4 separate regions of the Homo sapiens genome follow, and all the other regions are linked to region 4. Evidence: fine-mapped expression QTL. A gene starts in region 4. Each other region holds a variant in brackets. All regions are shown on one strand. Distances are from middle to middle.

What was found. PIP is the estimated chance that this variant, and not a neighbour inherited with it, causes the effect. A credible set is the group of variants that fine-mapping cannot tell apart.
Region 1: its variant is the best candidate, but not a certain one, in a credible set for the expression of DHX34 in whole blood (TOPMed, PIP 0.80).
Region 2: its variant is the best candidate, but not a certain one, in a credible set for the expression of DHX34 in monocytes after LPS (Fairfax 2014, PIP 0.68).
Region 3: its variant is the best candidate, but not a certain one, in a credible set for the expression of DHX34 in blood mononuclear cells (TOPMed, PIP 0.79).

Annotation. Positions count from the first base shown.
Region 1 is chr19:47,523,550-47,529,328 of GRCh38, reverse strand. ZNF541 (zinc finger protein 541) reads left to right here. Exons shown (of 17, transcript NM_001277075.3): 14 at 291-379. Among named protein-coding and RNA genes, the nearest start is that of NAPA, 11 kb to the right of the region's middle. The variant G/A (reference allele first, on the strand shown) is at 3,050.
Region 2 is chr19:47,396,516-47,402,294 of GRCh38, reverse strand. No RefSeq gene overlaps it. Among named protein-coding and RNA genes, the nearest start is that of MEIS3, 20 kb to the left of the region's middle. RefSeq lists enhancers at 1-405, 3,470-4,137. The variant C/G (reference allele first, on the strand shown) is at 3,451.
Region 3 is chr19:47,379,593-47,385,371 of GRCh38, reverse strand. It overlaps DHX34 (DExH-box helicase 34), which reads right to left. Exons shown (of 17, transcript NM_014681.6): 14 at 5,387-5,662; 15 at 4,380-4,556; 16 at 4,048-4,186; 17 at 2,668-3,392. The coding sequence ends at 3,259. Among named protein-coding and RNA genes, the nearest start is that of DHX34, 33 kb to the right of the region's middle. The variant C/T (reference allele first, on the strand shown) is at 2,664.
Region 4 is chr19:47,346,666-47,352,444 of GRCh38, reverse strand. DHX34 (DExH-box helicase 34) reads right to left here and starts at 3,130. Exons shown (of 17, transcript NM_014681.6): 1 at 3,093-3,130. It overlaps C5AR2 (complement C5a receptor 2), which reads right to left. Exons shown (of 2, transcript NM_001271749.2): 2 at 5,116-5,779. RefSeq lists an enhancer at 2,386-3,290.

The DNA of each region.
Region 1 (5,779 bases), 180 kb before region 4:
GGGGAGGGAAGATGGGCTTAGGTTCAGTGGTTGAACCCATCAGCTCTGGAAACAGGATGCCAGGGCCCCCACCTGCCTTTAGCAAGCGACTGAAGCCTCAGTTGCCACATCTGTTAAGTGGGGCTAGTAGTGGTCCCTCCCTTCTGGAGACTTTTTGAGTTTTTTATGAGATTGGCACATAATTGGTACTCAGTAATGGCAGCTATAAATGGGAAGGTGGTCTGCATTTCAGCCATGGCTGTGGTCCCAGGACAAATGGCCTTCCCCCTGTTGGCTGTGTTCTTTGATAGGTTCAGACGTCTGGACCCCTATAGAGAAGAGGCTTTTTAAGAAGGCGTTCTATGCCCACAAGAAGGACTTCTACTTGATACACAAGATGGTAAAGTGAATGTGGGCTGGTGTCCAAGGCCCTGCCTCACACAGCTGAGACAAGCTAGAGCTGCAGGGCTGGTCGGGGGTCGGAGGGCCCCACCCTCACCTGCCTGTGGCAGCACTCTTACTGTAGACAGTTTACAATGTCAAAAAGCTATCCTCATGAACAGCTCCAGATGGTACAGACCTGCATCACCTGCACAGAACAGTCTTCCATGCCCCTCCCCGCAGTCCTACTTCTGCTTGGCAACCTCTGTTACCTATTCCACCAAGCAACAGGCATTTCTGTCTGTACAAATTTTATATATATAGGTATGCATGTACTTTAAAAAAGATAAGGGCCGGCCATGGTGGCTTACGCCTGTAATCCCAACACTTTGGGAGGCCAAAGGCGGGAGGATCACTTGAGATCAGGAGTTCAAGACCAGCCTGGCCAACATGGTGAAACCCTGTCTCTACTAAAAATACAAAAATTAGCCGGGCATGGTGGTGAGTGCCTGTAATCCCAACTAGTTAGGAGGCTGAGGCATGAGAATCGTTTGAACCCGGGAGGCAGAGTTGCAGTGAGTGGGGATTGTGCCACTGCACTCCAGGCTGGGCAACAGAGTAGGACTCTGTCTCTTTTTTTTTTTTTTTTTTTTGAGACGGAGTTTTGCTCTTGTTGCTCAGGGTGGAGTGCAGTGGCGCAATCTTGGCTCACCGCAACCTCCGCCTCCCGGGTTCAAGCGATTCTCCTGCCTCAGCCTTCCGAGTAGCTGGGATTACAGGCATGCGCCACCATGCCCAGCTAATTTTGTATTTTTTAGTAGAGATGGGGTTTCTCCATGTTGGTCAGGCTAGTCTCGAACCCCCGACCTCAGGTGATCCACCTGCCTCAGCCTCCCAAAGTGCTGGGATTACAGGCGTGAGCCACGGCGCCCGGCCCAGGACTCTGTCTCAAAAAAAAAAAAAAAAAAAGGGCCTGGCGTGGTGGTTTATGCCTGTAATCCCAGCACTTTGGGAGGCCGAGGCATGTGGATCACCTGAGGTTGGGAGTTCGAGACCAGCCTGACCAACATGGAGAAACCCTGTCTCTACTAAAAATACAAAATTAGCTGGGCATGGTGGCACATGCCTGTAATCCCAGCTACTCGGGAGGCTGAGACAGGAGAATCGCTTGAACCCGGGAAGCGGAGGTTGCGGTGAGCCAAGATCTCGCCACTGCACTCCAGCCTGGACAACAAGAGTGAAACTCCGTCTCAAAAAAAGAAAAAAAGGATGAGGTCAGGCGCAGTGGCTCACGCCTGTAATCCTAGCACTTTGGGAGGCCAAGGTGGGAGGATTGCTTGAGGCTAGGAGTTCAAGACCAGCCTGGGCAATATAGTGAGACCTTGTCTCTACAAAAAAGTTAAAAACTAGCCTAGCATGGTGCCGCGTGCTTGTGGTCCCAGCTACTCGGGAGGCTGAGGTGGGAGGATTGCTTGAGCATAGGAGGTGAAGGCTGCAATGAGCCAAGATTGCACCACTGCACTCCAGCCTGGGTGACAAGATGAGACTCTCACCACCCCGAAAAAAGCCAAAGGATGAGATCTCACTGCATATAATGTCCTGCTGCTTATTTTCTGTTCTAAAAAAAAAATTGGATGTATACAAAATTGCACATAATTGCAGTATAATAAGATTTGCTAAGTTTTGACATATTGATACTATACCTGGGAAACCATCACCACAGTCAAGATAATGAGCATGTCCCTCAGCCCTGAATCTCCTCCTGCCACATAGTAATCACTCCCCATTGCACCCCCTGTCCTCAGTCAGCACTGATCTGCCAGGGCACTGTAAATTCGTTTTCATTTCCTAGAGTTTGCTATAAATGGAGTAGTCACACAGTATGGACTCTACTTGGTCCAGCTTTCTCACACTCAGCATCATGATTTTGAGTTCATCCATGTTCCAGGTATTGATAGGTCTCCCCTTTTCACTGCTGAATAGTATTCCACTGGGTGGATGTACCACGGTTTAAAGAATCATTTGCCTGTTGGTGGACATTTGAGTGGTTTCCAGTTTGGGATGACTATAAATAAATTCGTTATGAACATTCAGGTACCAGTCTTGGTATGGACATGTACTTTGTTTTCTAGAGGAGTAAATACCAGGAATGGAATGACTTAGTAGGTGTATGCTTAACTTTTTAAGAAACCGCCAAACAATTTTCCAAAGTAGTTGTATCATTTCACATTCCTACCGGCAGGAAAAGAGATTTCTAGTTGCTCCACAAACTCGCTAGCCCTGGGTAGGGCCAGTCCTTTTAATTCCAGCCATTCTCATGACAGTGTGGTGGCATCGCATTGTGTTTCCTTCACAACTGACGATGCTGAGCATCTTTTCATGGGCCTGTTTGCTGTCTGTATGCCTTATTTGGTGAGGTGTCTGTTCATATCTCTTGCATATGTTTTTATTGAGATGTCTGTGTTTTCTTTTTTTTTTTTTTTTTTTGAGATGGAGTCTCACTCTGTTGCCCAGGCTGGAATGCAGTGGCGCAATCCATGCTCACTGCAACCTCTGCCTCCCAGGTTCAAGCGATGCTCCTGCCTTAGCTTCCTGAGTAGCTGGGATTACAGGCGCCTGCTACCACGCCTGGCTAATTTTTGTATTTTTAGTAGGGACGGGGTTTTGCTATGTTGACCAGGCTGGTCTC[G/A]AACTCCCAACCTCAGGTGATCTGCCCACCTTGGCCTCCCAAAGTGCTGGGATTACAGGCGTGAGCCACCGCGCCCAGCCGGCTGTGTTTTTATTATTGAGTTACAGCAGTTCTTTATTGATTCAGGACACGTCATTTATCCAGATCCATGCTTTGTGAATGTTTTCTCCCAATCTGTAGCTTTTTAATCTCTTAACAATGTCTTTTAAAGAAAAATTTTGTCATTTTGATGAAGTCATTTATTAATTTTTCTTTTATGGACTGTGCTTTTGGTGTTGTATCTAAGAATTCTTTGCCTAACCCAACCACAAAGATTTTCCCCTTGTTTTCTCTAGAAGTTTTTTTTTTTTTTTTTTTTTTTTGTGAGACGGAGTCTCGCTCTGTCGCCCAGACTGGAGTGCAGTGGCGAGATCTTGGCTCACTGCAAGCTACGCCTTCCAGGTTCATGCCATTCTCCTGCCTCAGCCTCCCGAGTAGCTGCGACTACAGGCACATGCCACCACCATGCCCGCCTAATTTTTTGTATTTTTAGTAGAGACGGGGTTTCACCGTGTTAACCAGGATGGTCTCTATCTCCTGACCTCGTGATCTGCCCGCCTCGGCCTCCCAAAGTGCTGGGATTACAGGCGTGAGCCACCTTGCCCGGCCTTCTCTAGAAGTTTTATAGTTTTAGGTTTTACAATTAGGTTTACAATTCAGTTTGTGTTAATTTTTGTATATGGTGTAAAGTATGAGTTAAAGTTCATTTTTTGCATGTGGATATTCATTTGTACCTTTTGTTGAAAAGACAAAAAAATGTAATACCATACTGTTTTTACTACTGTAGCTTTCTAAGTCTTAAGATCATGTATTACCATATGAACTTTCTAAGTAGCTTATCCATTTTTACCAAAAAAAACAAAACAAAACAAAACAAAAAACCTGCTAGGATTTTGATTGGTACTGCATTGGCTCTATAGGCCAATTGAGGAGAGTTGACTTTTTTTTTTTTTTGGAGACAGAGTTTCACTCTCGTTGCCCAGGCTGGAGTGCAGTGGCGCGCTCTTCACTCACTGCAACGTCCACCTCCCGGGTTCAAGCGATTCTCGTACCTCAGCCTCCCGAGTAGCTGGGATTACAGGTGCGCACAACCACACCTGGCTAATTTTTGTATTTTTAGTAGAGACAGGGTTTCACCATGTTGGCCAGGCTGATCTTGAACTCCTGACCTCAGGTGATCTACCTGCCTCAGCCTCCCAAAGTGCTGGGATTACAGGCGTGAGCCACCGCACCCAGCCAAGGAGAGTTGACATTCTAACAACATTCAGTTTCTGACTCATGAACAGGGGCTGTGTCTCTATGCATCATCTTTAATTTCTCTTAGCAGTGTTTTGAAGGTTTTACTGGTTCTTATTTCTTTTAAGATCTAGGATCTCACTCTGTCGCCCAAGCTGGAGTACAGGGGTGTGATCATAGTTCACTGCACCCTTTGACCTCCTGGGCTCAAGTGATCCTCCAACTTTGAGTAGCTGGGACTACAGGTGTGTGCAATCACACCTAGCTCTGGTATAACTCTTTTTTTTTTTTTTTTTTTAGACAGAGTCTCGCTATGTCACCCAGTCTGGAGTGCAGTGGTACGATCTCAGCTCACTGTAACCTCCACCTCCTGGGTTCAAGCGATTCTGCTGCCTCAGCCTCCTGAGTAGCTGGGATTACAGGTGCGTGCCACCACACCCGGCTAAATTTTTTGTATTTTTAGTAGAGATGGGGTTTCCCCATGTTGGCCAGGGTGGTCTCAAACTCCTGACCTCAGGTGATCCTCCTGCCTCGGCCTCCCAAAGTGCTGGGATTTCAAGTGAGCCACCGCGCCTGGCCTCTGGCATAACTCTTTGAACATATATTAAACAGTTATGGTAACCTTTCATGTCCTTCCCTGCTCATTCTAACACCTGTGTCTCTGGTGGGTTGACTTTGATACATTGGGTTTTCTCCTCCTGATGTGCCGTGTTATCCTGCGTCTTTGCGTGCATGGTGATTTTCACCAGATCACGGGCATTGTGAATGTTAGCTGTTGGATGCTGGATATTTTTGCAGCCTTGTAAATATTCTTGAGTTTTGTTCTGGGACACAGTTACTTTTAGGTTCAGTTTTAGATTTTTTAGATGGGACCAGCATAGCTCTTCTCTAAGGCTGATTATTTCTCCTTACTGAGGCAAGACTGTGTCACTGCCCTACCCAGTGCCCCCTGCATCATAAAATTTCCCACTCTGGCTGTGGGAACGGGCACTCTTCCTGGCCCTGTAGGAGCAGCACACACTTTCCCCTCTCATCCTTTTGGATGGCTCTTTGCCCAGCTTTGGCTGGTCTCTTCCCATGCATGTGCTGGGCAGTCTTTGGGTGAGTTCTTGGGGGAAATTTGCTCCCCATCTCTGGAATGTTCTGTGTGTAGCTCTCTCCTCTCCCATCCTCTGTCCTGTGGGCTCTACCGCCGTGGTCTCCGGAGGCACTGTGCTCCACCTCAGCTCCCTAAGTCCTGCTGGGTTCTGCCTAAATTGCCCCTGCCTGGGTGGTGGCCTGGAAACACAAGTTGATAAGCTGGAGCGGTGGCAGCTTGCTTCCTGTCAGGGTTCACTGCCCTTTGTTGAATGACGCCTGGTGTCTTGCCAAACATTGTTTATATTTTGACTCTGTGTTTTCATTGTTTTGGACGAGAGGGTAAATCTGGTTCTGTTGCTCCATCTTGTTCAGAAG
Region 2 (5,779 bases), 50 kb before region 4:
TGTGGATCGCTCCCCTGTTTGGCTCTGTCTCTCTCCCTCTGGTACCTTTTTTTTTTTTTTTTTTTTTTTTTTTTGAGAGGGAGTCTCACTTTCTTGCCCACACCAGGCTGGAGTGCAATGCTGGGATCTCAGCTCACTGCAACCTCCACCTCCTGGGTTCAAGCGATTCTCCTGCCTCAGCCCCCTGAGTAGCTGGGATTACAGGCATGCGCTACCACGCCCGGCTACTTTTTGTATTTTTAGTAGAGACGGAGTTTCACCATGTTGGCCTGGCTGGTCTTGAACTCCTGACCTCAGGTGATCCACCCACCTCCACTTCCCAAAGTGCTGGGGTTACAGGTATGAGCCACCGCGCCCAGCCATTCTTTCTGTCTCTGTCTTGTTCAGACCTTGTCTCTCTCTGTCCCCTTCCCCACTGGAAACCCACATCTTCGGGGCCTCCCCCTCCCTTCTCCTTCAGAGGCCAGGTGAGCTCTTTCCTTCAGACCCGGGCTGCTTCGTCTTGGCTCACTGCCTTCCAGTCCCCTCTCCCAAGTGCCCCTCAGCCCCTCCGCCATCCAAGCGCCCCCTTTGCCATCCTCTCCCCAGAGCCATCCTTGGACCTCTGAGTCTCTCGGGCACCCCCAACCACGTACACTGCTGCTCTGTGCTCAAGGCCCAAGGGGCACGTGTGTGGGTTTTTGAAGGACCCCGTGAAAAATGTGTTCCTGGACCCCCGGAGTCCCTTTGGGGTGGGCCTGGATGGAGAGATTTGCACAGAGACACACATCGCTACAAACAGACACACATGCAAATACGCACATGCACACTCGGAAACATACACACACATAAAGGATGCACAGAAGATATGCCACACTCAGCCGGGCGCGGTGGCTCACGCCTGTAATCCCAGCACTTTGAGAGGCCGAGGTGGGAGGATCACTTGAGGTCAGGAGTTCAAGACCAGCCTGGCCAACATAGCGAAACCCCGTCTCTACTAAAATACAAAAAATTAGCCAGGTGTGGTGGCACATGCCTGTAATCCCAGCTACTCAGCAGGCTGAGGCAGGAGAATCACTTGAACCCAGGAGGTGGTAGAGGTTGCAGTGAGCTGAGATCATACCACTGCACTCCAGCCTGGACAACAGAGCGAGATTCCGTCCCCCTCTGCCCCCCGAAAAAAAGAAAGAAAATATCCGCTGAGCAGACGAGTGAATGAACAAAATCTTAGGATAGGCCAGGAGTGGTGGCTCACGCCTGTGATCCCAGCATTTTGGGAGGCAAATCACTTGAGGACACAGCCTGGGCAACATGGTGAAACCCCATCTCTACTGAAATATAAAAATTAGCCGGGCATGGTGGCGGGCGCCTGTAGTCCCAGCTACTTGGCAAACTGAAGCAGGAGAATCCCTTGAACCCAAAAGGTGGAGGTTGCAGTGAGCTGAGATCATGCCACTGCACTCCAGCCTGGGTGACAGAGCGAGACTCCATCTCAAAAAAGGAAGAAAGGGATGAGTGTCACAAAAAGCAGAACAGGCACAGGATGAGAGCATGGGCTGCCACTTTTATGACCTTATGGAGCCCTTCAGTAAGTGCTGTGTCCCAGGCTCTGTTCTAGGAGCCGTATACCTGGGAATCTGTTAAACCCTATGGCAGCCCCAGGAGGTGGGTGCCATCACGGTCCCCATTTCCCAGGTGAGGAAGCAGGACCAGAGAGGTGAAGTGGCTCATCCAAGGTCACACAGCTGGAGATTGTGAGGCTGGGCTCCATTTGAACCCAGGCAGCCTGGCTCCAGGGCCTGGACACTAACCACTGTGCTTCCAGCCTCTCTTTTCTTTTTTTTTTTTTGAGATGGAGTCTCACTGTCTCTCTCACCCAGGCTGGAGTGCAATGGTGTGATCTCAGCTCATTGCAACCTCCACCTCCCAGGTTCAAGTGATTCTTCCACATCAGCCTCCCGAGTAGCTGGAATTACAGACACCCACCATCATGCCCGGCTAATTTTTGTACTTTTGTAGAGATGGGGTTTCGCCATGTTGGCCAGGCTAGTCTCGAACTCCTGACCTCAGGTGATCCGCCGCCTCGGCCTCCCAAAGTGCTGGGATTACAGGCGTGAGCTGCCACGCCCGGCCCCAGCCTCTTTTTCTTAAAATAGAATTCTCTGAAATTCTAATTTTTATTTATTTATTTATTTAATTTTTTTGAGACAAGAGTCTCACTCTGTCGCCCAGGCTGGAATGCAGGGGTGTGATTTCAGCTCACCACAACCTCCTCCTTCCAGGTTCAAGCAATTCTGCTGCCTCAGCCTCCCAAGTAGCTTGGACTACAGGCATGCACCACCAGGCCTGGCTAATTTTTGTAATTTTTAGTGGAGACGGGGTTTTGCTGTGTTGGCCAGGCTGGTCTCGAACTCCTGACCTCAAGTGATCCACCTGCCTCGGCCTCCCAAAGTGCTGGGATTACAGATGTGAGCCACCGTGCCTGGCCTGATTTTTAATTTTTTAAATTGCTTTTGTTTTTGAGATAGGGTCTCCCTCTGTAATCACAGCTCATTGCAGCCTCAAACTCCAACACTCCAGCAATCCTCCTTCCTTAGCCTCCTCAGCAGCCGAGACTACAGGCACAAACCACCATGCCTGGCTAATTATTTATATTTGTTGGTAGAGATGGCTTTTCATGGTGTTCCCAGGCTGGTCTTGAACTCCTGGGTTCAAGCCGTCCAGCCGCCTCGGCCTCCCAAGATGCTGGGAATACTGGCGTGAGCTACCGCACCTGGCCTGATATTGTTTTCGTGACTATGATGAGAGTTTCTCTCTCCCAAAACTCCCCGGGACTCAGGTGGGATGGGTGATGGGTGGACAGCAGGAAGGACTTCAAACAATCACCCTCCCTTGATGGCAGGTGGGGGAAGGAATATGGGGGAGGGGCAGGGCCAGGCCAAGACTTTGAGGTCGGCTGAGAGGGGAGGCAGTTGCTTAGTGTATCCCCTGCCTGGTGCTGGGAAGGGGTCCCAGCGGCTGGTACACTGGGAAGTTGGGGAGGGGACAGCTCTCCTCTTCCCCTCCTCCCCCTTTTCCCAGAATCTGGAAATGCCTCTCATTAACTTAATCATCTCTAATTAAACCAATTGGATGTGCCTGGGGAGAAGGGAAATTGGGTGGGAGGTTAATTGTAACTAAAAATATCTCCCCCACTTCCTGAGAGGAGGAAGCAGCCACTGGACCTGCGTGTATGGTAGGTTGGCATCTCAGAGCAGGAGGGGCCCCTGGTTCAGGGGCATCCTGGGTCGTGGGGTGAGGACCCAGGGGATAGGCAGGCGGGGCTCGGGGGCTGCAGTTGGTGTGTGTCTGACCCCTGTGTGTCCTCTGGGCCTGTGGACTTGGAATGTGGTGGTCGAGGGCAGTGGTTGAGGGATGTCGGTGTGGCTGGAGGCACCGCCCGTGTCCTGTTGCTGAATGTGGTGTGTGTGT[C/G]TGTCGCTGAGTGGCGGTGTCCGTCACACGTGCCTTGGTATAGGTTGTGTGTCTCTGTGTAGGTTCCTGACTGTGACGATGAGACTTTTCATGCGCGTCCGTGTGAAGAGACCACCAAACAGGCTTTGTGTGAGCAATAAAGCTGTTTATTTCACCTGGGGGCAGGAGGGCTGAGTCCAAAAAGAGAGTCAGTGAAGGGAGATAAGGGCGGGGCTGTTTTACAGGATTTGGGTAGGTAAAGGAAAAAGGGGGGTTGTTCTCTGGTGGGCAGGAGTGGGGGGTCACAAGGTACTCAGTGGGGGAGCTTTTGAGCCAGGATGAGCCAGGAGAAGGAATTTCACAAGACAGTGACATCAGTTAAGGCAGGAACAGGCTATTTTCACTTCTTTTGTGGTGGAATGTCATCAGTTAAGGCCGGGTAGGGCATATTCACTTGTTTTGTGATTCTTCAGTTACTTCAGGCCACCTGGGCGTATACGTGCAAGTCACAGGGGATGCGATGGCTTGGCTTGGGCTCAGAGGCCTGACATTCATGCCTTCTTATATTAATAAGAAAAATAAAACAAAATAGTGTTGAAGTGTTGGGGCGGCGAAAATTTTTTTGGGGGGTGGTATGGAGAGAGAATGGGCGATTTCTCGGGGCTGCTTCAAGCGGGATTAGGGGCGGCGTGGGAACCTAGAGTGGGAGAGATTAAGCTGAAGGAAGATTTTGTGGTAAGGGGTGATATTGTGGGGTTGTTAGAAGAAACATTTGTCATTTAGAATTATTGGTGATGGCCTGGGTACAGTTTTGTATGAATTGAAAAACTAAATGGAATAAGAGAAGGAGAAAAACAGGTATAAAATGTCTAAGAATTGGGACGACTCAGGACATCTGATTAGAGAGTGCCTAAGGAGATTCAGCATAGTCCTGCCAGCAAAGATTATTTGTTTACTTCAGGAGTTAAGAGTGGCAGTTTGGGGATAGCACGAGGAGATATCAGCTGTGATGGCTTGGAGAAACAGTGTAAACCGGCAGTGTGAACAAGAGCAGGGCACGTATGAGTAGTTGAGAACGGAGAATAGGAGTATGACTAGACAGAAGATAGTAGGGATGACAAGTTTTTTGGGGGCACAGTCTAAGTTGGTCCGGTGTCTGGAATGAGACTGGGGCCTAATAAAAAGGATTGTCCATACAGGAGCTCAAATAGGCTGTACCCTGCAGCATTCTGAGAAGCGAAAGAGGTAAAAGTATTGTCCAGTCCTTTTTAAGTTGGCGGCTGAGCTTGGTGAGGTGTGTTTTTAAAAGACCTTTAGTCTGTTCTACTTTTCCTGAAGACGGAGGACCGTAAGGGATATAAAGGTTTCACTGAATACTAAGAGCCTGAAAAACTGCTTGGCTGATTTGACTAATAAAGGCTGGTCTGTTATCAGACTGTATAGAGGTGGGAAGGCTAAACTGAGGAATTATGTCTGACAGAAGGGAAGAAATGACTGCGGTGGCCTTCTCAGACCTTGTAGAAAAGGCCTGTACCTATCCAGTGAAAGTGTCTGCCTAGACTAAGAGGTATTTTGGTTTCCTGACTCGGGGCATGTTGAGTAAAGCTAATTTGCCAGTCCTGGGTGGGGGCAAATCCCTGAGCTTGATGTGTAGGGAAGGGAGGGGGCCTGAATAATCCCTGAGGAGTAGTAGAACAGCAGATGGAACACTGAGAAGTGATTTCCTTGAGGACAGATTTCCACGATGGAAAGAAAATGAGAGGTTCTAAGAGGCGGGCTAGTGGCTTGTACTATAGCATAGCCTGCCTTTGCTGGTGTGTGGCGATTAGGCCTGGTGGAACTGCCATCAGTAAATCAAGCGTGATCAGAGTGAGGAACAGGAAAGAAGGAAATATGGGGAAATGGGGTGAATATCAGGTGGATCAGAGAGATACAGTCATGGGGGTCAGGTGTGGTATCAGGAATAATGTGGGAGGCCAGATTGAAGTCCGGGCCAGGAACAATGGTAATTGTGGGACTTAAGAGTGAGTGCAGCTGAAGGAGCCGGGGAGCAGAAAGTACATGCGTCAGGTATGAGGAAGAAAATAGATTTTGGAAGTTATGAGAAATGTAGAGAGTGAGTTGAGCATAGTTTGTGATTTTTAGGGCCTCTAAAAGTATTAAAGCAGCGGCAGCCGCTGCACGCAGACATGAGGGCTAGGCTAAAACAGTAAGGTCAAGTTGTTTGGACAGAAAGGCTACAGGGTGCGGTCCTGGCTCTTGTGTAAGAATTCTGACCACACTAACCATGCCTAGGAAGGAAAGGAGTTGTTTTATAAGGGATTGAGGTTTGGGAGATTAATTGGACACG
Region 3 (5,779 bases), 33 kb before region 4:
TTTTATCTGGGTGCTGCTGGCACAGGTATGTTTCATCTGGGAAAATTCACCAAGCTGTTTACTTATAATTTGTGCATGTTAGCCTTCAAGAGGAACATTTTAAAAGACTGTTGAGGCTGAGCGTGGTGGCTCATGCCTGTAATCTCAACATTTTTAGGAGGCTGAGGCGGGCAGATCACCTGAGGTCGGGAGTTCGAGACCAGCCTGACCAACATAGAGAAACCCCCGTCTCTACTAAAAATACAAAATTAGCTGGGTGTGGTGACACTCGCCTGTAATCCCAGGTACTTGGGAGGCTGAGGCAGGAGAACCACTTGAACCCGGGAGGCGGAGGTTGCAGTGAGCCGAGATTGAGCCATTGCACTCCAGCCTCAGCAACAAGAGCGAAACTCCGCCTCAAAAATAAATAAATTAAATAAATACTGTTGAATGAGCCGGGTGCAGTGGCTCACACCTGTAATCTCAGCATTTTGGGAAGCTGAGGTGGGCAGATCACCAAACACAAAATTTAGCCAGGTGTGGTGGTGCACGCTTATAGTCCCAGCTACTCGGGAGGCTGAGGTGGGAAGATCACTTGGTGTCAGAAGGCAGACATTGCAGTGAGCTGAGATTGTGCCACTGCACTCCAGCCTGGGCAACAGAGCAAGACCCCATCTCAAAGAAAAAAAGTATATAAACCCCTAGTTTTAGTTAGGGAGACGGATTTGAGACTGATTTCCCATCTCCTCAGCCACGCATCTGATTAAAGCCTTCTTCCTTGGAAAGAAAGGAAGCCCATGGTTCCAGACCAACCTGGGCATCATGGTGAAACTCTCTACAAAAAACAAACAAAAAAACCTATTCACACCCAAAAATTAGCTGGGCATGGTGGCACATGCCTGTAATCCCAGGTACTTGGGAGACTGATTTGGGAGGATCACTTGAGCCCAGGAGGTGGAGGCTGCAGTAAGCTGAGATTGCACCACTGCACTCCAGCCCGGGCAACAGAACGAGACCCTGCCTCAAAAAAAAAAAAAAAAAAAAAAAAAAAAAAAAAAAAAAAAAAACTGTTGAATGGAATCTGTTACCAAAAATCAGGGGTTCAGTCCAGGTCCTGCTGCTGGTCGCACAGAAAGCCAATCACTAAAGCGAGTATTGCCAAGAAGAAGGCTTTAATGAGATGTGCAGCCAAGGAGATGGGAAATGACTCTCAAATCCATCTCCCTGACTAAGACTAGGGGTTTATATACTTTTTTTCTTTGAGATGGGGTCTTGCTCTGTTGCCCAGGCTGGAGTGCAGTGGCACAATCTCAGCTCACTGCAATGTCTGCCTTCTGACACCAAGTGATCTTCCCACCTCAGCCTCCCGAGCAGCTGGGACTATAGGCGTGCACCACCACACCTGGCTAATTTTTGTGTTTTTTAATAGAGACAGGGTCTTGCTATGTTCCCCATCCCAGTCTGGAACTCCTGGACTCAACTGATCCACCCTTATCGGCCTCCCAAAGTGCTGGAATTACAGGCATGAACCACCATGCCCAACCTTTTTTTTTTTTTCTGTTTCTAATATGGTGAATCAGATTGATTTTCAAATGTTAAATCAACCTTCCATTCCTAGAATAAGCCCCAGTTGGCCATGATGTACTGTATTTATATATTGCTAAATATGATGTGCTGAACTCCTATTTAGGGTTTTTGTCTATGTTCATAAGGCTTAGAGTTTTCTTTTCTTGCATTGTCATAGCCTGCTTTTAGCAGCAGGATAATGCTGACCTCATAACATCAGTCAGGAGGCGTCCTCCCCTATGCTGTGGCCAAGTGGGTGTGGGCGAGTATCATTTCCATGTTTGGTAGACGTCACCAGGGAGCCCATCTGAGCCTGTTCTCTTTGTTAACTATGAATTACATTTCCTTAATAGAGTTGTTCCGGTTATCTATTTCTTCCTGAATGAGCTTTGGGTAGCTAGTGTCTTTCAATAATTTTTTCCATTTCAAATGAGTGAATTTCTGTGTGGCACGTTGTTTATCGTATTCTCTTCTCCTTTTCGCATCTGTAGGACCTACAGGTTGTCCTCCTTCCATTCCTATGCCGTGCCTTCTTTTTCTCCTGAGTGATTTTATTGTTCTTTTCATTTTCTTTTTTTCTTTTAGAGATGGAGTCTCGCTCTGTCACCCAGGCTGGAGTGCAGTGGCACGATCTCGGCTCACAAGCAACCTCCGCCTCCTGGGTTCTAGCAATTCTCCTGTCTCAGCCTCCTGAATAGCTGGGATTACAGGCACACGCTGCCACGCCCAGCTAATTTTTTGTATTTTAATAGAGATGGGGTTTCACCGTGTTGCCCAGGCTGGTCTCAAACTCCTGAGCTCAGGCAAACCACCTGCCTCAGCCTGATTTTTTTTTTTTTTTTTTTGAGATGGAGTTTCACTCTTGTCGCCCAGGCTGGAGTGCAATGGCATGATCTCAGCTCATTGCAACCTCTGCCTCCCAGGTTCAAGTGATTCCCCTGCCTCAGCCTCCCCAGTAGCTGGGATTAAAGATGCCCACCACCACACCCAGCTAAGTTTTTGTATTTCTAGTAGAGACAGGGTTTCACTATGTTGGCCAGGCTGGTCTCGAACTCCTGACCTCAGGCGATCCACCCGCCTCAGCCTCCCAAAGTGCTGGGATTACGGGAGTGAGCAAC[C/T]ATGCCCGGCTCAGCCTGTTCTTTTATTTTTTTATTACGGGAGTGAGCAACCATGCCCGGCTCGGCCTTTTATTTTTTTATTGTGAGTGGGTCTTATGGTGCAGCCTGTGGTCCCACGTGAACACCAGTGCTCCCAGCCCCCCTGCACAACTCTCAAAGTGACCCAGGTGGATGGGCAAATTCAGGGTCCCCCTACTTCAAGGGGTAGGAGAGACTGAGGATGGACTCAAGAGAGAGCGGCTGCGGAGGTGCTAAGAACCTGCACCTGGAATCTGGAGACATGGGAGGTCCCTGCTGGCTCTAACGCCCCTCCTACCCAGGACCCCTCAGGCAGCACCCTGCAGCAGGAAGAAGGAAAGCTAGACCCTGGGGAGGACTAACAAGGCAGCTGCTGCTTTCTGGATGGGCAGGTGCAGGCCTAACAGTGTGTATCAGCATGTGAGGCTTTATTCACAATCCGTGCTCCAGGCCCTCTGCACTGGGACAGGACCACAGGGCTAAGCCCAGGCTGGGGGTTCAGGCAAGAGTCCTGCCCCTAGTCCTGGGCTGGAGGGCAGGTCAGCTGCACGGAGGTGGGCAGGGCTCCTGGCCCAGCTCACACGTGCTGCTTCCGGTGGCGCAGCACCTCTGTGGGTGTAAAGAGGAAGTCCTTCCCGCAGGCCTCGCAGTGGTAGGGCCTCTGCAGGACAGATGTCTTCTGGAGGGTTTCGAGGGCAGCTTCCTCAGCCCCTAAGGGAGGAAAAGGAGGAGGCTGTGAGGGGCGTGTTCCAGTGCACAGGTCTACCTGCACCCAAATGCCAGGCACCTGTGGGGCTCAGGTTCTCTCCTGGCCTTTGGAGAACCCAGTTTTGCCTCCTCCAGGAAGCCCTCCCAGATTAATAAAAATACACAGGTCTGTCTTTACTCCGCATCCCTGCCAGTGAGAGAGACAGAGAGAAAGACACAAGGAGAGACATGGAGACTGAGAGGCAGACACAGCCAGCCGGGGATGGAGGCATGTGGCCCCAGTGCTATCTCCCCCACTGAACCCCAGTGTGTGGCATCCCTGGGTGACAACAGGGTGGAGGTGACCAAGGCAGAGATAGCTGCAGGACAGAGAAAAATAACAAGAGACATAGCCACAGAGAGACAGAAACAGAGACAAAGACAGCAACACAGAGACACCACAGGGGACAGGCAGACAGAAAGAGGTGGCGCTCCAGGCTCTCCCTGCCTTGGGCTCCTGATCTTCAGGACAAGGCCTGTGTGTGGCACCAGCCAGGGCCAGCGGGTGGAGGTCGTCAGTCCTCGAAGCTCTAGCAAGTGCTCACACGCACAGGAGACCATCATGGGATGGGCAGACGGCTGGGCAGAGGTGGCCGGGTCCCCACAGTCCTGTGCTTACCTGGGGGCCCATCCTGTGGGGCCTGGGGGCAGGTGTTCTCATGGGCGATGCGCTCCAGGGGCGTGAGGGGCGCATGCAGGCCACAGTGGGGGCAGGTCCAGAAGGTTCGGAGACAGTCGCTGTACAGGTCTGTGTCATTCTGTGGCAGGCCAGCTGTCAGGGCTGGGCCCCCGCCAAGTGCCACCCACCACCCAAGTGCCCCCCCGGGACCCTTCCCAGAAGCCCTCAGGGCCACGGGCCCCACTTGGGAACTATGTCCCTGGACTAAGGTGAAACGGGGTGGTGGGGTCTTCCTGAAATCCCACCTTCAGGGAAGGAGGGTTCATGCTTACCGTGAGGCAGTTGTAGGTGAGGAAGTCAGTGACTGCGTAGCCCCCCTTTGTGGGGTGGGGGGACAGGGTGGAGCTGCCAAAGAGGCCAGGAAGATGGGGGGTGGCTGGGATGGTCTGGGGTCCCACATACATGTTCTGGACTTCTAGCCCTGTGAGCCGCCGGAGGCTGTAAGGAATCTAAGGAAGGAGAGACAGGAAATGGAGAGAGACAGACTCAGGGAGATGCCGCCAAAGCACCTGGATCCAGCTGTGCCTGAAGCCCTCCCTCGGGCTTTGCAGTTACGGGAGCCAAGTGCTTACACCAATCACAATTTGGCTGCAGACACACATGACCAGGGGTCTGTCTAGAATATACCTGATAACCCACCCCCATCTAAATTGCCCTCCCCAGGCCCCTCTTCTGCCCCTGTCACTGGTGGGACCCCATTCAGACCTTGAGTCTAACCTTCAAGTCTGGCCACCTCCCCCCTCCTCCTCCTAGCATGTCAGCCTTGGTCCCCTCTCCATGGCTCACTGGGTTCCTGCTCCTTTGTCCTCAAGCCCTTCTACTCCAGGAAGTCAGCCTGGATTGTACCCTTCTCCCCACCCCACCCACATGAAGTAGAACCACGAGCAATTTCCACTCCCCACCTAAGAGTCAGGGGCTGGTTTCAAGTCTGCTCAGTTCAGTTCTTCCCATCCACAAGCAGACGTCTACGGCTTCCCTCTCACACCCTGCCTGTCCTTTACTGTTAGCAAGAGGGGATCAGCCACGCTTGCAGAAGGTGCTTAGTAAACAAGGCAGCAGTGGGTAGTGTGGCCTCTGGAACCAGGCTCCTGGGATCAAATCCTAGCTCCACCCAGACCAGTGGAGTGACCTTGTGTAAGTGACTGAACCTCTGTGGCCTGAAAACCCCCAAATGTGCCCATGTGGAGTGAATGGGAAGCCAGGCCTTCCCGAGGCTCAAGCCCAGTGACGGATGCCCCTTCTGGCCATAGGGAGGCACGGGCACCCTGGTGGAGGGTACCTTGGATGCCGTGAATTGCAGGAGTTCCTTGCTCAGGGTGGCCACCTCCTTGGGGCTGACTGGCGTATCCTCCTCCTCCTCCTCCAGCTGCTGCTGGGCCTGGTGCGCCAGCTGCCGGTCCAGGGCACTTTCCCAGCGGGCACGGAGCCGCAGGGAAGCCGCCAGGAGTCGGATGGCACTTTCACTGTCTGCTAGCTGCAGCTCCAGCCAGCCATCGGCCACCAGGCGGGAGCAGTCACCATTGGTGTCCAAAGACCGGCTAAAAAGCAGGAGGGACTGAAAGAGAGGGGGCAGAAGACAGGGAGTAGGTGGGAGGGGCAGGGCGCTATTGGAGACAGGCCCTGCCCGGCTGGGCTCCTGCCCACCCACCAGCCCTGTCTATGTGAGGCATCC
Region 4 (5,779 bases):
CTTAGCCTCCCAAAGTGTTGGGATTACCAGTGTGAGCCACCATGCCCAGCCCATTTTTAGAAACATTTCTAACAGCCTGTTTCTTAAGCACTGAACTAGAAAAAGGAGGTAATGAATATGACTACCAGAGTCCTCACAGACGGCCATGATCACATGATCTCTCATGTGACACACACGTCATCAGACTGTGACAATCCAGTGATGGGGACTGTGATAACAGAATCCTAGGGAGCTGTGGGACACCAAAGGAGGTTCCTCCTCCTTCCCATGCTTGGGAATCAGGGAAGGATCCTGGGAGGAGGGGATGTTTCACCTGAGACCTAAAGGAGAGATGTAGGTCACATGGCCAACCAACAGCAGAACCTTGTCTCCACAGGCAGTAATAGGAGAGAGGTGTGATATAATGAAAAGAATAAGGCAAGGGTTCTTCACCCGGGGTCCAGTGAGATTCAGAACATTGAGATAAAAGGCAAAATTTTGCAAGTGTTATATGTAATTTTTGCCTGCCTGGCACAACCCTTTACTTCTTTTCTGAGGACAGTATCCACCTTCCTTTGGACAACAGCCCTTCCTCGATTCTACATGGTTCTGAGGGCCTTTAAGACAAAGAACCCCTATTGGGTAGGCAAGTAACAAAGACCTGGCCAGTCTTAGTAGTCTACTCCCCCTCTAACCAAGGATTGGCCTGAGAAGCGGACACATGATCCAAGAAGGGCCAATCAGGGCCCTTTTGTGGAATTTACACTCGGTTGCTAGGACAGAAAAGCTCTCATTTTATCCATCATAATCAGGCAAGTTTGATATAAGCCTGGAGCTCTTTGTGGTAGCTCTGGAACATGACAGAGTCTTTCCTAAAATCTATCCTAGAGAAATAACTAGATACAGGCACAAGAATGGTCACTGCACCACAGGGAGAGGTGAAAGAGGGAGAGGAAGAGAAGCTTGGCAACATCATTTAGGTCTTGAAGCTTAGTTCCCTTCAACCCCCCACTTCTCAGCTACACCAGAAAATGCCTTTTTGCTTACAGTTGGAGTCTTTTTTGTTTTGAGATGGAGTCTTGCTCTGTCACCCAGGCTGGAGAAAAAAAATTAGCCAGGTGTGGTGGCGGGCACCTGGCTACTCGGGTAGTCCCAGCGACTCGGGAGGCTGAGGCAGGAGAATCACTCGAACCCTGGAGGCAGAGCTTGCAGGAAGCCAAGACTGAGCCACTGCACTCCAGCCTGGGCAACAGAGCGAGACTCTGTCTCAAAAAAAAAAAAAAAAAAAAAAAAAGAAAAAGAAAATGAGAGCATTCTTCTGAGGCTAGAAACTGCTTATGCATGCTGGGCCCCACTGACAGCATCCCGCTCCTCTCAAGGTATCTATCTTTTTTGGCTTCTAGATTGTCTGCATCTTCTAGTTTCTGTATAACTGTGTCTCTGACCATCTTTTGGTCTCTTGGCCTATTTGCCCTGGGCTCATGGCCTTCAGTGGGTTTGTTTCCCCCTCTGTCCCCTCCATCTCTCTCCACTCCATCTTCAGGCCTCTGTCTCTTTTTCAGTCCGTCTTGTTCATCATCACCCTCATCTCTCTTCCCTGTCCTAGTCAGCTCGCATCTCTCTTCACTTATGAGTCATTCTGTAGTCTGATTTTTCTCTGTAATCCAACTCTTCCTTTCTCCATCTCTCTTCAGTTCTCCATTTGACTTTCTCCATCTTTCTCATTAAAAAAAAAATGCTTTTTCAGGCCGGGCATGGTGGCTCACGCCTATAATCCCAGCACTTTGGGAGGCTGAGGCAGGCAGATCACCTGAGGTCGGGAGTGCGAGACCAGCCTGACGAACATGGAAAAATCCCGTCTCTACTAAAAATACAAAATTAGCCAGGGTGGTGGCACCTGCCTGTAATCCCAGCTACTCTGGAGGCTGAGGCAGGAGACTCGCTTGAACCCAGGAGGCAGAGGTTGCAGTGAGCCAAGATCGCACCACTGCACTCCAGCCTGGGCAACAAGAGCGAAACTCCATCTCAAAAAAAAAAAAAAAAAATTCATTTTTGTTTTTTTGAAACAGGGTCTCACTCTGTCACCCAGCCTGAAGTGCAGTGGCACAATCACGGCGTACAGCAGCCTCGACCTCCCAAGCTCAAGTGATCCTCCCACCGCAGCCTCCCAAAGTGCTGTGGATGACAGGAGTGAGTCACCACGCCCTTTCTCATTTTCTGTTTGAATCTTTTTTTCCTCCCTTTTGTCCTTCCAGTATTCACTCTCCATCACCACCTCTCTCCATTTCCCCATCTAATACTTTATCTCCCAATATCAGAAGCTTTAGTAATAGCTCATGCTTACTTACTCACATTAACACACAGACCTATCCTATCTGCATGATCTATTCCTATCCCACACCTATGTACATACACACACACACTTTTCTCACGACTGTCAGGCACTATGATCACCCCCTATTTTACTGAGCAATAGAGAGGCTAAGTGAGTAGCCGAGTGTTACATGAGCCACTCAAATCCAGGGGTTCGGGCTCCACTCCCTCGCTTTTCCATTTCTCAGCATCGTTCTCCATTATCTCCAGCTTTTGTGGGGTTCTTCCTATTTCAACTGTCTCCATCCTTCCGTATCTCTCGGTCTCCCCCGTGATTCAGTGTCTCGTTTCTCCATCTAAATTCCATTTTTTCTGTTTCTAGTGTCCACGATCAGTTTCCGACTTTTCCCTCCACTCCCCAAGTTCATGGGCGACCACGCCTCTCGGCCTCGTGGGCTCTAAGACTCTCGCTGGAACCCATCGGCACTCTCGCCCACGCTCTCTAGTTTTCAGCTTCCCTCCTCTCCCAACACCCTCGTCTTTCAGTCCCTCAGTTTCTCGAAGCTTCTTTTCGTGCCTCCATTTCTTTCGGTCTCTGGCCTGTCGCCCAGGTTCTCCCAGGGACGCTCAGGTGCCATCTCTGTCCGCGTTTGCCGGCCCTTCGGCTGCCTCCTACATTTCTCCTCATCTCGAGACTTCCCTCGCCCCTGGACTCGCACCCCAAACTACCCCCAAGCGGCCCAACTCCGACAGCCATCGCCGCCACAACCCGGTACACCCGTCCCGCCCCCCTCACTTACCACACGCCGCGAACGCCTTAACTTCCGGTCCCAAGAGCGCTAGTCTTGCGCCTGCGCACACAGCCATCTCGTTCTGACCCCGCCCCGCCACCACAGAAGAGCCAATCGGAAGCTCTGGGCTGCCCAAGACCCATCTTGCGCCTGTGCACAGCACGCTTCCGCCCCGCCTCGCTTGGGGCGGAGCCTCGAGTGATTGCGCCCTCTAGAGGCCAGTAGAGGCATTGCGGTACAGACTTGCAAGCGCCTCCTCCCCGGCCCCGCCCTCTCCTCCCCAAGCATAGCCACGTGCGCCTCAGCTCCGGGACGCCGGGGTTTTAACCCAAAGAGAGAGCTGGTCTGGGGCCCAGGAACTTTTTTTTTTCTTTTGAGACATAGTCTCACTGTCTCCCAGGCTAGAGTGCAGTGGCGTTATCTCACCTCATTGCAATCTCCGCCTCCCAAGTTCAAACCATTCTCCTGCCTCAGCCTCTCGAGTAGCTGGGATTACAGGCGCACACCACTACACCTGGCTGATTTTTGTATTTTTAGTAGAGACGAGGTTTCACGATTTGGGCCAGGCTGGTCTCCAGCTCCTGATCTCAAGTGATCCGCCCGCCTTGGCCTCCCAAAGCACTGAGATTACAGATGTGGGGCATCTCACTCAGCCTCTACCTCTTTTCTTTCTACAACCCCATTTTCTGTTACCTTTCTCTGCAATAAACTCAATCACACACATTCAGGAAGACCCCCAAGTATAGAAACAATCTCATTAGCCAGCAATGCACCCTCTCTTTTATTAACTGAAAGAAGAAACAGCTGGGCACGGCGGCTCACGCCTGTAATCCCAACAGTTTGAGAGGCCGGGGTAGGTGGATCACCTGAGGTCAGGCGTTCCACACCAGCCTGGGCAATATGGCCAACCCCTGTTTCTACAAAAAAATACAAAAGTTAGTCGGATATGGTAGTGTGTGCCTGTAGTCCCAGCTACTCAAGAGGCTGAGGTGGGAGGATCGATTGAACCTAGGAGGCTGAGAGACTGAGGCTGCAGTGAGCCATGATGGTACCACCGCACTCCAGCCTGGGTGACAGAGCCAGACTGTCTCAAAAAAAGAAAAAAGTGTTGTTGTTTTTTTTTTCTGAGACGGAGTCTCGCTGTCGCCCAGGTTGGAGTGCGGTGGCGCGATCTCGGCCCACTGCAGGCTCCGCCTCCCAGGTTCCCGCCATTCTCCTGCCTGAGCCTCCCGCATAGCTGGGACTACAGGCGCCCGCCACCACGCCCGGCTAATTTTTTGTATTTTTAGTAGAGACGGGGTTTCACTGTGTTAGCCAGGATGGTCTCGATCTCCTGACCTCGTGATCCGCCCACCTCGGCCTCCCAAAGTGCTGGGATTACAGGCATGAGCCACCGTGCCTGGCCAGAAAAAAGTTCTATGTCTAAAAAAAAGAAGGACTCTAAAGTTTTTGGCCTGAGCATTTGGAAATATGGAGTCACCATCTACTACCATCAGGAAGACGTGGGAGAGAGGCTAGAGAGAAAATCCGAAGATCTGTTTTCAGCATATTGTTTGAGTTATGCATTGGACATCAACTGGGGATGTCAAGTGGAACGTTGGATATAATTATCAAGCCTCTGGAAAACAACTTAGAGATAGAGAAGCCAATTCATACATTATTATCAAAAGAAGAAGAATAAATGGACTAAGCATTCTGCTTAAAATTTCCAAACAAGGCCAGGTGCGGTGGCTCACGCCTGTAATCCCAGCACTTTGGGAGGCCGAGGCAGGTGGATTACCTGAGGTCAGGAGTTCGAGACCAGCTAAGCCAACATGATGAAATCCCGTCTCTACTAAAAATATAAAAAATTAGCCAGGCATGATGACGGACACCTGTAATCCCAGCTTCTCGGGAGGCTGAGGCAAGAGAATCGCTTGAACCCAGGAGGTGGAGGTTGCAGTGAGCCAACATCGCATCATTGCACTCTAGCCTGGGCGACAAGGAGAAACTCTGTCTCAAATAAACAAACAAACAAATAAATAAATAAATAAATAATCCAAACAATAATTATAATTTTTAAAAAAGGAAAATTGGAGGAAATGAACAACAAATGGAAATCAACAAGAAAGCCACAGTCTATCAACCATAGGATTGTATAGCAAGCTTGAGACTAGTTCTTAGAGAAATTATTAATAACTTGGTTCTTTGAAAACTTAAGGAAATCAATATTTCTATGGTAAAAAAACAAATAGCAGAAATAGACAAACTTTAGAACAAAAAAGGGAAGTTATAGCAAAACAGATGGCTTTTAATAATCAAAGGTATTTTATGTAACATTGCACAGACTTAAATTTGAAAATTCCCGTGAAATGTATTCCAGTTCAAAAAAGAAGGGCTAATGATCTACAAAATGAAAACATTTCAAAAACCACAAAAGATGTTTTGTAAAAGTTATCAAAGAATGCTCCTAAGTGGCAACTGGTCCCAATAGATTAATGGGAGGATTTTGCAAACTTTAAGCCCCAAAGCGGGGTTTTAGCCCACGAGGGTTCTTGGCTTTGCCCAGAAAAGAATTCAAAGGTGAGCAGGGGCAAGGCAGGGGAAAACAGCTTGCTTTCTTTCCTTCCTTCTTTCTGTCTTTGTGTCTTTCCTTCTTTCTTACTATTTTTTTTTTTTAGACGGAGTCTTGCTCTGTCACCCAGGCTGGAGTGCAG